2 linked regions of the Homo sapiens genome follow. The protein of the gene in region 2 interacts with the protein of the main gene of each other region in a pairwise test. Each region holds a gene or a part of one and is shown on either strand. Other genes may lie near its edges.

The links. The genes of interacting proteins can lie anywhere in the genome.
Region 1: the proteins of LAMP2 (region 2) and CETN3 interact in binary tests that used the Homo sapiens proteins (3 or more experiments, as listed by UniProt).

What each region holds. Positions count from the first base shown.
Region 1 is NC_000005.10:90,399,757-90,404,140, forward strand, and holds part of CETN3 (centrin-3), read right to left. Parts: intron 1-4,384. UniProt on the Homo sapiens protein: Plays a fundamental role in microtubule-organizing center structure and function. As a component of the TREX-2 complex, involved in the export of mRNAs to the cytoplasm through the nuclear pores.
Region 2 is NC_000023.11:120,424,915-120,429,507, forward strand, and holds the end of LAMP2 (lysosome-associated membrane glycoprotein 2 isoform A precursor), read right to left. Parts: 3' UTR 3,713-4,593; coding exon of another isoform or gene 3,570-3,712; 3' UTR 1,234-3,569; downstream 1-1,233. UniProt on the Homo sapiens protein: Lysosomal membrane glycoprotein which plays an important role in lysosome biogenesis, lysosomal pH regulation and autophagy.

The DNA of each region.
Region 1 (4,384 bases), on a different chromosome or scaffold from region 2:
TCATGAGCAACTTGTCTTATTATAAAAGTAAGCAAAACTATATCACACAGAGGCAAAATAAAAAGGACTACATTTATACCATATTTATTTAAGATCTACTATTATCAAGAATTGTACTAGGCTCCACTGACATCAAGCACACAAGGAGTGTGTCATCTACCTGTGGAGAGACATACCAACAAAATAATTGGAGCTAACTAAATAAAAGCTGCTTGCTGACTAAACGTCATACTAACACTGATTCTTCCTCAAATTTAATCCAACTTCAAAACAAGAAAAACTGCAAGAGACAAAAAGTACTGCCATCGCAGACACAGGCACAATCTCAGACAGCATTTGAAAATTCCACTAATACCTTTGTGATTAGAAGAACCTCTTGGTTTTCCAAAATTTACAAAGTAGTAAATAGGATCAAATCTGACTATAGCAGGAAAGCCCACCCAAAAAAAACCTCTGCAAAGAAGGTCTCCTTAAAGCTTACCCATTTTGTTTGGATAAATCACTCTCAGACAACTAACTAAAAATAAATGTAGTTTCAAACCTCAATGGTAATTGTGTATTTTAATACACTAAATATAATCACATGTAATAACATAGTAATAAGCTTAAGTATTTTCAATTTTACCAGTCTTTAATCAATAGCCACAATAAAAATTAAAATAAAAATCTATGGCATAAAAATTGGTAAGTTACTAAATAAAATTCTAACAGTATCTAAATAAGTATCTCTGAAGTAATTATATACACTATCTGCCACTACAAGAAAAGGTATTTATGGCCTTTACTATGCTATTAAAAATAACTCGGTCCTGTTGAAGGTTACAGAATCATTAAAAAAAAAAAAAAAAGCAACTGCTTATAGATGGAAAATACTGGAATGTTTAAGGAACCCAGAATGAAAAAAATACAATCGAAGTCTCCAACAAGCTGTTGTTTTGCTGCTGTTTCACCCGTATTTGGTTCAATAATCACCTATTCAAATGACTATTATATCATCTACACATATTTTCAATAGTTTCCTTTTATCCATTAATTTTATCCAAAAAGGCTTCCAAGTAACTAATTGAAGTATATTACTGTAAGTATGCAAATCATCAAAGCTCATAAATATTCAGTCAAAAAGAAGCTGGCATATCTACAGCCATAACACCAAAATAAAATACCACACTTAACTCTATGGCACATACTCAACTTATTTTGAATTTAGTCCCAACAAAAAAGCAGGACAAGGAAAAAAAGTGTTAAGAAATTTTCTTCACCAATTAAATAATTTACATGACAGGTGAACCAAAAAAGCAGCTTGCTGAAAGTATTAATGTACTTAAAGAAGCAACAGGGTGATTGGGGAACAGATGGGGCTCCAAGATGTATAAATTCTTATCCCACTGGTACTTTAATTGTGTTAGTTATTTCAGAGCTATGTGTCTATATATTCTTTTATCAATATTCTTCCTTAAAATGCAGCTTTTCTTGGGAATTATAAATGCTCATCATTTTGGACAGCAAAAACATTACCTAATATATAACTTTATAATGACTCTCCTCCATGCCTTCAGGTTCTATTCTTGTTCCACAAAGTAGAATTTAATTATAAGGAATATATTTATTTTCAATGAAAATATTAGTAAACTGATATAGAGGCAGTTAAGGTGGGTTTCATTTATTTCACAAAACTCCAAATTTCTGTCCATGCAACTGTATTTTCAAATGATTTAATTACACATACTATCAGAAATGTACTTCATCAAAATACTTTCTTAGACCTTTAATGTGTAAAAATCACTTAAGAATACGGCAAATCCAAAAACATCACATCAAAAGTAAATTAAAAATTATTATAGGTAATGCTAGAAATACAGCTTTAACTGTATTTCTCAATGTCTTTCGGAAATTTCTATCCAAACATACCAGTTAGACATGTTGGACTCCAAACTCATTCCACTACCACCATAGTAACTGCAGCTGCCTCCCCTACCCCAACCAAAAGATAACAGCAACATTTACAGCTAGATTCCATATTTGAAAAGCATAAATCATTTTCAGTCCCACAAACTTAATCAGGTCCTATAGTACTGAGAATACTGTTTTTTTTCTAATTTATTTATTGTTTTAAAACAAGGTCTCGCTCTGTTGCCCAGGCTGGAGTGCAATGGCGTGATCCCAGCTTACTGCAGCCTCAACTCCTGGGCTCAAGCAATCTTCCCACCTCAACCTCCAAAGTAGCTGGGACTACAGGCATGTGCCATCATGTCTGGCTAATTTTTTAAAATTTTTTTGTAGAGACAGGATCTCACTTTGTTGCCCCAGCTGGTCTCAAACTCCTGTGAGCGAGCAATCCTCCCGCCTTGACCTCCCAAAGTGCTGGGATTACAGGCATGAGCCACCAAGCCCAGCCTCTTTTTTATTCTTAAATGTATTTTCTTTTCACCCTCGCCATCCTCAGCGAAAAAAATAGTATTTTCTGTCTGCAGTCTCTCTTCCTTCCAACTCATCATCAATAATACTCTCATCAGTTTTCTTTCTCAAACATATCATATCCCCTTCCCTTAAAAATTGTGAATGATCTCTGCTGACTAGAATTCAAAATCTTCATGTTTTGCAAGACTTTACCAATCTGGCCCAATCCTATGTTTCCAGTCATTTCCCTATGTCTAGCCCAGAACACTACCTAGTTTCCCAAACATGCTATCCGTCTAGTACCATTCTTTGTTGTTGCTGCTTTCTAAGCCTAGAATGCTTTTTCTCTACTCTTCCTGGCAATCTTGGAATGAAATCTTACTCACATTTCCAAAGGCCTAAATTTAAAATCTCCTCTGCAAAGACTTCAATTCCTCTAGATCAGGGATTAACAAATCTTTCCTGTAAAAGGCCAATAGTAAATATTTTAGGCTTTGTAGAGGGCCATAAAGTCTCTAACTACTCACTCTGCCATAGTAGCACAAAAGCTGCATAAAAGAAGGGGTGTGGTGGTGTACAAGCAGCAGCTGAATTTGGTCCAAAGGCTATAGTTGCTGACTTCTGTCCTAGACAAAATTACAATTTACCACATAGTACTATAGCCTGTTGTCACCTATATTTACATTGTAAACTCCCTGAAAGAAGAACCTTTTAGTAACTTTTAATTAAGTCTTCTTCCCAACCCCAGTACAGTACCTAATACCAAAAAATTCAGTGTTAAATAAGCAAAATGAAGACAATAATACAGTATTACAATCTCAATCAGCAATAATAAGTAGTACATGTCAAAAATAGTGTACAAACGTTTGACTTATGTTAGTCTTAAAGACACTAATTCCTAAAATATCTATGTTACTCACTAGCCTCAGGCTGTCTTGACTCTAAACTTAAATTAAATATATTTTAAAGCTTTTTTCCAGTACTAGGAAGAGTCTATAATAGTTAACTGCCAAACTTCATCCAGATATATCTGTGGAACAGTGTCCTTGGGTAGTTCATAAAACTAGGACTCAAATGTTATGATTTAGAATCATCTGTCCCAAAGTATAAAACATATTAATCTGTGGTCAGTGATTAGTTAAAAATAATCAACAAAAGGGGTAATACATAGTTCCTGAATGATTCCCAAACAGTAATACATTTTTATTTGACACCTGGTACTCTCCATAGGTAGCCTTAAGATAGCTAAGATACATGTTGACCCTGTCAAAAGGTTAATCTTTTAGTGTCAAAGCTGAAGTTTAGCCACATCTATTTATTCTAGAAGGAACCCAGTATTTCTGCTCTGTTAATAACATAGAACAGATGGGGTGTCAGGAAAAAGTGGAGGTGGCATGGGATTCTGGTCCCAACTGCCAATAAAAATCACAATTTTTGGCCGGGCGCGGTGGCTCACGCCTGTAATCCCAGCACTTTGGGAGGCCGAGGCGGGCGGATCACGAGGTCAGGAGATCGAGACCATCCCGGCTAAAACGGTGAAACCCCGTCTCTACTAAAAATACAAAAAATTAGCCGGGCGTAGTGGCGGGCGCCTGTAGTCCCAGCTACTTGGGAGGCTGAGGCAGGAGAATGGCGTGAACCCGGGAGGCGGAGCTTGCAGTGAGCCGAGATCCCGCCACTGCACTCCAGCCTGGGCGACAGAGCGAGACTCTGTCTCAAAAGAAAAAAAAAAAAAAAAAAAAAAAAATCACAATTTTTAAATTGTGTTCATTTAAGGTGAAATAACATATTTTGTAAAATTATTAGTGATGATACAGTGCTTACAATAGCCTTTATGAAAAAAGTCAATAAAAAATATACACAAAGTCTATTTTATGTCCCAGTGATGCATATATGATTATTTCGAGCCCCTGAAACAAAGACAATTTTTTAAAGTAATAATAATAGCAAATGCTTAGTAGCACTTACAACATGCTAGGCCCTTTTC
Region 2 (4,593 bases):
GATTTCTGTAACCATTTAATGTAAGGCATGTGCTTTAAAAAAATCTATTGCTTCTGCAAAAGGCAGATGTATAGTGGTTAACTGCATGGTCTTTGGCGGGCAAACAGAACTGGGTTCAAATGTCCATTTTGCCACTTAATCCTGTGTGACTTTGGTTAAGTAACCAACTCAAGCCTCAGTTATCCCATATGTAAACTGGAAATGATACCCCCAACCTCAGAGAGTTGGTGTATTAAATGAAATAAGGTGTTTAAAGTGCACAGCACTGTAACTGCTCAATAAAATTATGGATTTTTCCTACTAAAGATGCATTGTATGGCAAGATTTCTCCTGTTCATTATGCATACCTCTTGAAATTAAAGGGACCCAAACTTACACTGCTATCAAAATACATGCAGACAGTAAAAACAAAGGAAAGGAAAAACATTTCATCAGAATTCTAAAGGCAGTTCTGGCATTCAAAAAGTATACACATTGAAGTTAAAAAGATGACCCTCCAAGTTGACTTTTTAGATACACTGTAACCCTCACAGCAACATATATCGAACCACTCTTCCTAATTATCAGTCAACTTAAAGTGCTTCTTTCAGAGGCCTCATGAGGTGGCAGTTATGAAGGCCATTTTTTGACTTAATTACAAGCTATTAAACGTCTTTCAGAAAATGAAACCCTATTATTCTGGAACTATGGAGGGAGCCAATGTCTAATTCCTTCTCCCACCAAAAATACCTCTCATGTAAAAAGGAGTATGTTTATGTATGTGTTGTTGTTTTATCCAATTATATAAAAATTAAGCATTAGACTAGATTGTAAGGAATTTAAAGGAAATTCACAAAATGGATAGCTCCTCCCCTTGCCCCACCATATCCCTGAGGTATATCTCACTCAGAATGAAATGAACTTCAACAATTAGTATAGTTCATCAATGCAGACAGACATACGCGGAAAGTACGTTTGTTATGATGTTCTTACATTTGTTAGATTTCCATATTTTGTTTTTGATGTTTTCTTGTAATTTCCATGACTAAGTAGGTCCCCCTATTTGAGGTGTCTGTACTAAAGGTTCTGTACTAGTGCCTTCCTAATGACGGGACTTGGTTAAGTTGCAGATCTATGAGATCCTATGATTCCTGTTGACAATCCAAGAGACTAGAATTCAAGAAACTTAGATTATACAATTAAGTCTAAGCTCTTAAGGCTGAGCATATGGAATAAAAATGAGGTTATCCATAGTGGTATGGAATGTATGATCTTTATTAATTTTTAATCCATCAATCTAAAATCACACATACTAGATCAAACAGAAGTACCACAGTATGCTTTATTTTGCAGGTATTAATTGGTTCTCTAAATCGATACATCCAAAACTTTAGTTAGCAGCAAGCATCAGTTCTTCCAAAGCAGCTTAGGTGAAAAACAATTGTTTACATTCACCAGTTCAAAGTCGTACTGTCTGATCCACTGTTGTATTGACATAAAATTGAACTCAGTAGGCAAAGCTAATTGAACACTCAGCTCATAGATTTTGAGCTTCCTTTATCTTATTGGAGTTGAAGCAGTTTTTAACCCTCTGTTAATATTCTCTATTTTAATTCTCAAAGAATTAAACACACATATTTTCTAATTAATTAAGATAGAGCCATGATAACTATTGAGGAATTAGTGATATTAGTCTCATACCCAAAAGGTAGAACACTTTTAAATGAACCCATAATTTTGAATGTATCTGAATTTCCAGTTTATATGCTTAGCAAGGTCACAAGCTGATTTTATTAATCTGGCTTCTAGATAATCATCTCAAAAATATGTATTGAAACAAAGCCACTGTTTTTTATGATGACATCATTTTAACCAAATGCTTTTATAACAAATAAGCAGTTGTTCTCAAAAGAGAACATTTTAAAAGAAAACATTCTTTACATACTTAGCAAATAGAGGAGAGTGTGAATCTGTATGTCAGAGCTATAGAGTTCTAGAGGAGTTGTAGTTGAGCAATCTAACTTTCTACTCCAGTTTTTGAGATGTACATGTTTTTGAGATGTACATATAGAGAAGGCAGTAAAGAAAGATCTTGATAAATTTTCTTTAACAAAAATTTGTAATTCCAGTTATTGGCAAAGGGTTCTGGCATGAGTTAATGGCAGCAATACAGTGGTGAGCTTCTGCATTGTGCTGAGAGGTAGATTGGGACTTAATCCTTGGAATGAATAACCAACTCACTTTATTTAAGGTTCAGGCTTAATTTTTTTAATCCAAAAAAAATTTCTGAAGTGAAGGCAGATCTTTGGGAACTTTTGTTTTTAGTTAAATGTAGAGATAAAATAGCTTGATAAAATAAACATCTGCCTTATACTAATGACAGGTGTACAAAGCAGCCATTTGAACCCTAGACAACTTCAACACTGCTTCCAAATAAAAGGGCAATTCAACAGCTGAACCAATCAAGCAGACACAGGGATGAGTGGTCTCCAGTACCTTACTCCAGAAGCCGGAGCCATTAGCAGTCCCTACAGGGATATAAGTCTATATCAAGATCAACAAATGTACAGAATAATCTTAGTCCAGCTTTGGCTAGGCAGGCATCTGACTGATGACATATCAGGGCCCACTAACCTCTAGAGTAAGCACTTGTTGCTGTGAGAAAAAAGAAATCAATATATTAAAAATATCAACTAGAGCATATTCACATAGGGAATGGGAGAGTGCAGGAGGCACACAAACAAAGTATATAGAGTTTTTGTTTTCAGTGCAGGATAAATGAACCTTCTTAACAAGTTAAGGCTCTGAGGGAAAAAAACTTTCTAAACCATAACCTTAATAAACCATAACCCATACAGGTGTTCCAAATCAACACCTTTTTTAAAAAAAGCTGGAGGTCTTACTTCATCCTTCAGTATAAATGTCAAGTCTGAGATAATCAGTATATTCCAAACTCTAGAACAACAACAACAAAAAAAGAAATCTCCTTGTTAAAATATAGTAGCTATTAACAGTAATGAAGAAGACAGCCAAACTTTTGCTATTAAATACAATATCATGAAGCCATTTCTTTCTTAACTAACAGAAAAATACAGATTTAAATAATGCTGATCAGGAGGTGGGGAAAGGAAGTCTTATCATGAACCAAATTTCGTGTCTGCCACCAATGAAAATGAATCCACTATGTTCTTGAATTTATTTCCTGAAGCAAGTTAAATTCTTTAACACCTTTGATTTTGCAAATAACATCAAAGTAGTAAAATATAAGTAACTGTAACATATAAAATTACACATCAGCAAAAATGCTTTCATAATTGGATCCAGGGGCTTAAAATCATTATTTACTTAAAAAATTCTAAGCCACAATTTTTCTTTTAATTATACTTTAACAAAGGAAGAAAAAAAACAGAAAAAAATTGGTCCTAATATATTTTGTCTTAAATAAGTGTACTCATGCCCAAGTTAGCTAGGAACTCACTGAAGTTAGTCTGCATATCTTAAACAATCTATTGCACAGCATGTCCTGGCTTTTAGCCAATGGAAACGTAACTTCTAATTGAAAAAAACAAACAAACACTAGATTTAACTGATTACACAGACTGATAACCAGTACGACTTTTCCTTCTTCCAATCATATAAGAGATAAAGACAACAATTATAAGGAAGCCCAAGGCCACACCCACTGCAACAGGAATAAGAAAGTTGAGGTCAGAGTCAGCAGAACATTCTTCAGCTGTTAGAAAAGAACAGACAGCAAGGAAAGGAAATTAGCAAAGAATGCAATTAAGTAGTAAAAAGCATGCAAGAAACATGCATTTTGAAAGTGTACATAGCTTAGTTTTTTATAGCATTACCTCTATTTTCTTATTTGCTCAATATCTCATTATCACTTTATCTAAAATCACACGAAATTCCTCAGTACGAAAAGCAGAAGGTAAGGGAAGAATGGGAAGGGTCCAAAATAGAGAATTGCGCTTGCCTAATATGGGAAGACTTTAGGTTTGATTATCTAATGACACTGGGTTAAGGAGCCATCATCTACACTTAAAACCACTGCCTGTGTATTTCCCTACTCTCTTTCTCTTCGTCACACCTATAATTAAAGTATAAATAAGAATTCTGTATAAGTAATAAAATTTAAGTTAAAAAAGACTTAGGATCAAGAATGTAGTATATATATACATATATATGTGTGTGTATATATATGTGTATATATATGTATATGTGTATATATATGTGTGTGTGTATATATATGTGTGTGTGTGTACATATATATATATATACACACACACACAATTATTTTTAGCTGAGCGGTGGCCTGGAAGAATAACAGCAGTATCTAATGCGTTGCAGTCCATTCCACCGAACCACCAGGAAAGCAACATGTGCAATGTAGATTTTGAGTTCTGGATTCAGACAGAACTGTGTTTAAATCTTGACTCCTTCCAGTACTAGCCAAAGGACCTTGGGCAAGTTATTTAAACTGGGCCTCACTTTCCTCATCTGTAAGAAGGGGATAATAATACCTATAAGGTATTTGAGGATTAAATACAATTACATTTCTAAAGCATCTGATACACATCAAGAGGTCAACAAGTATTCATTCTCTTCTCT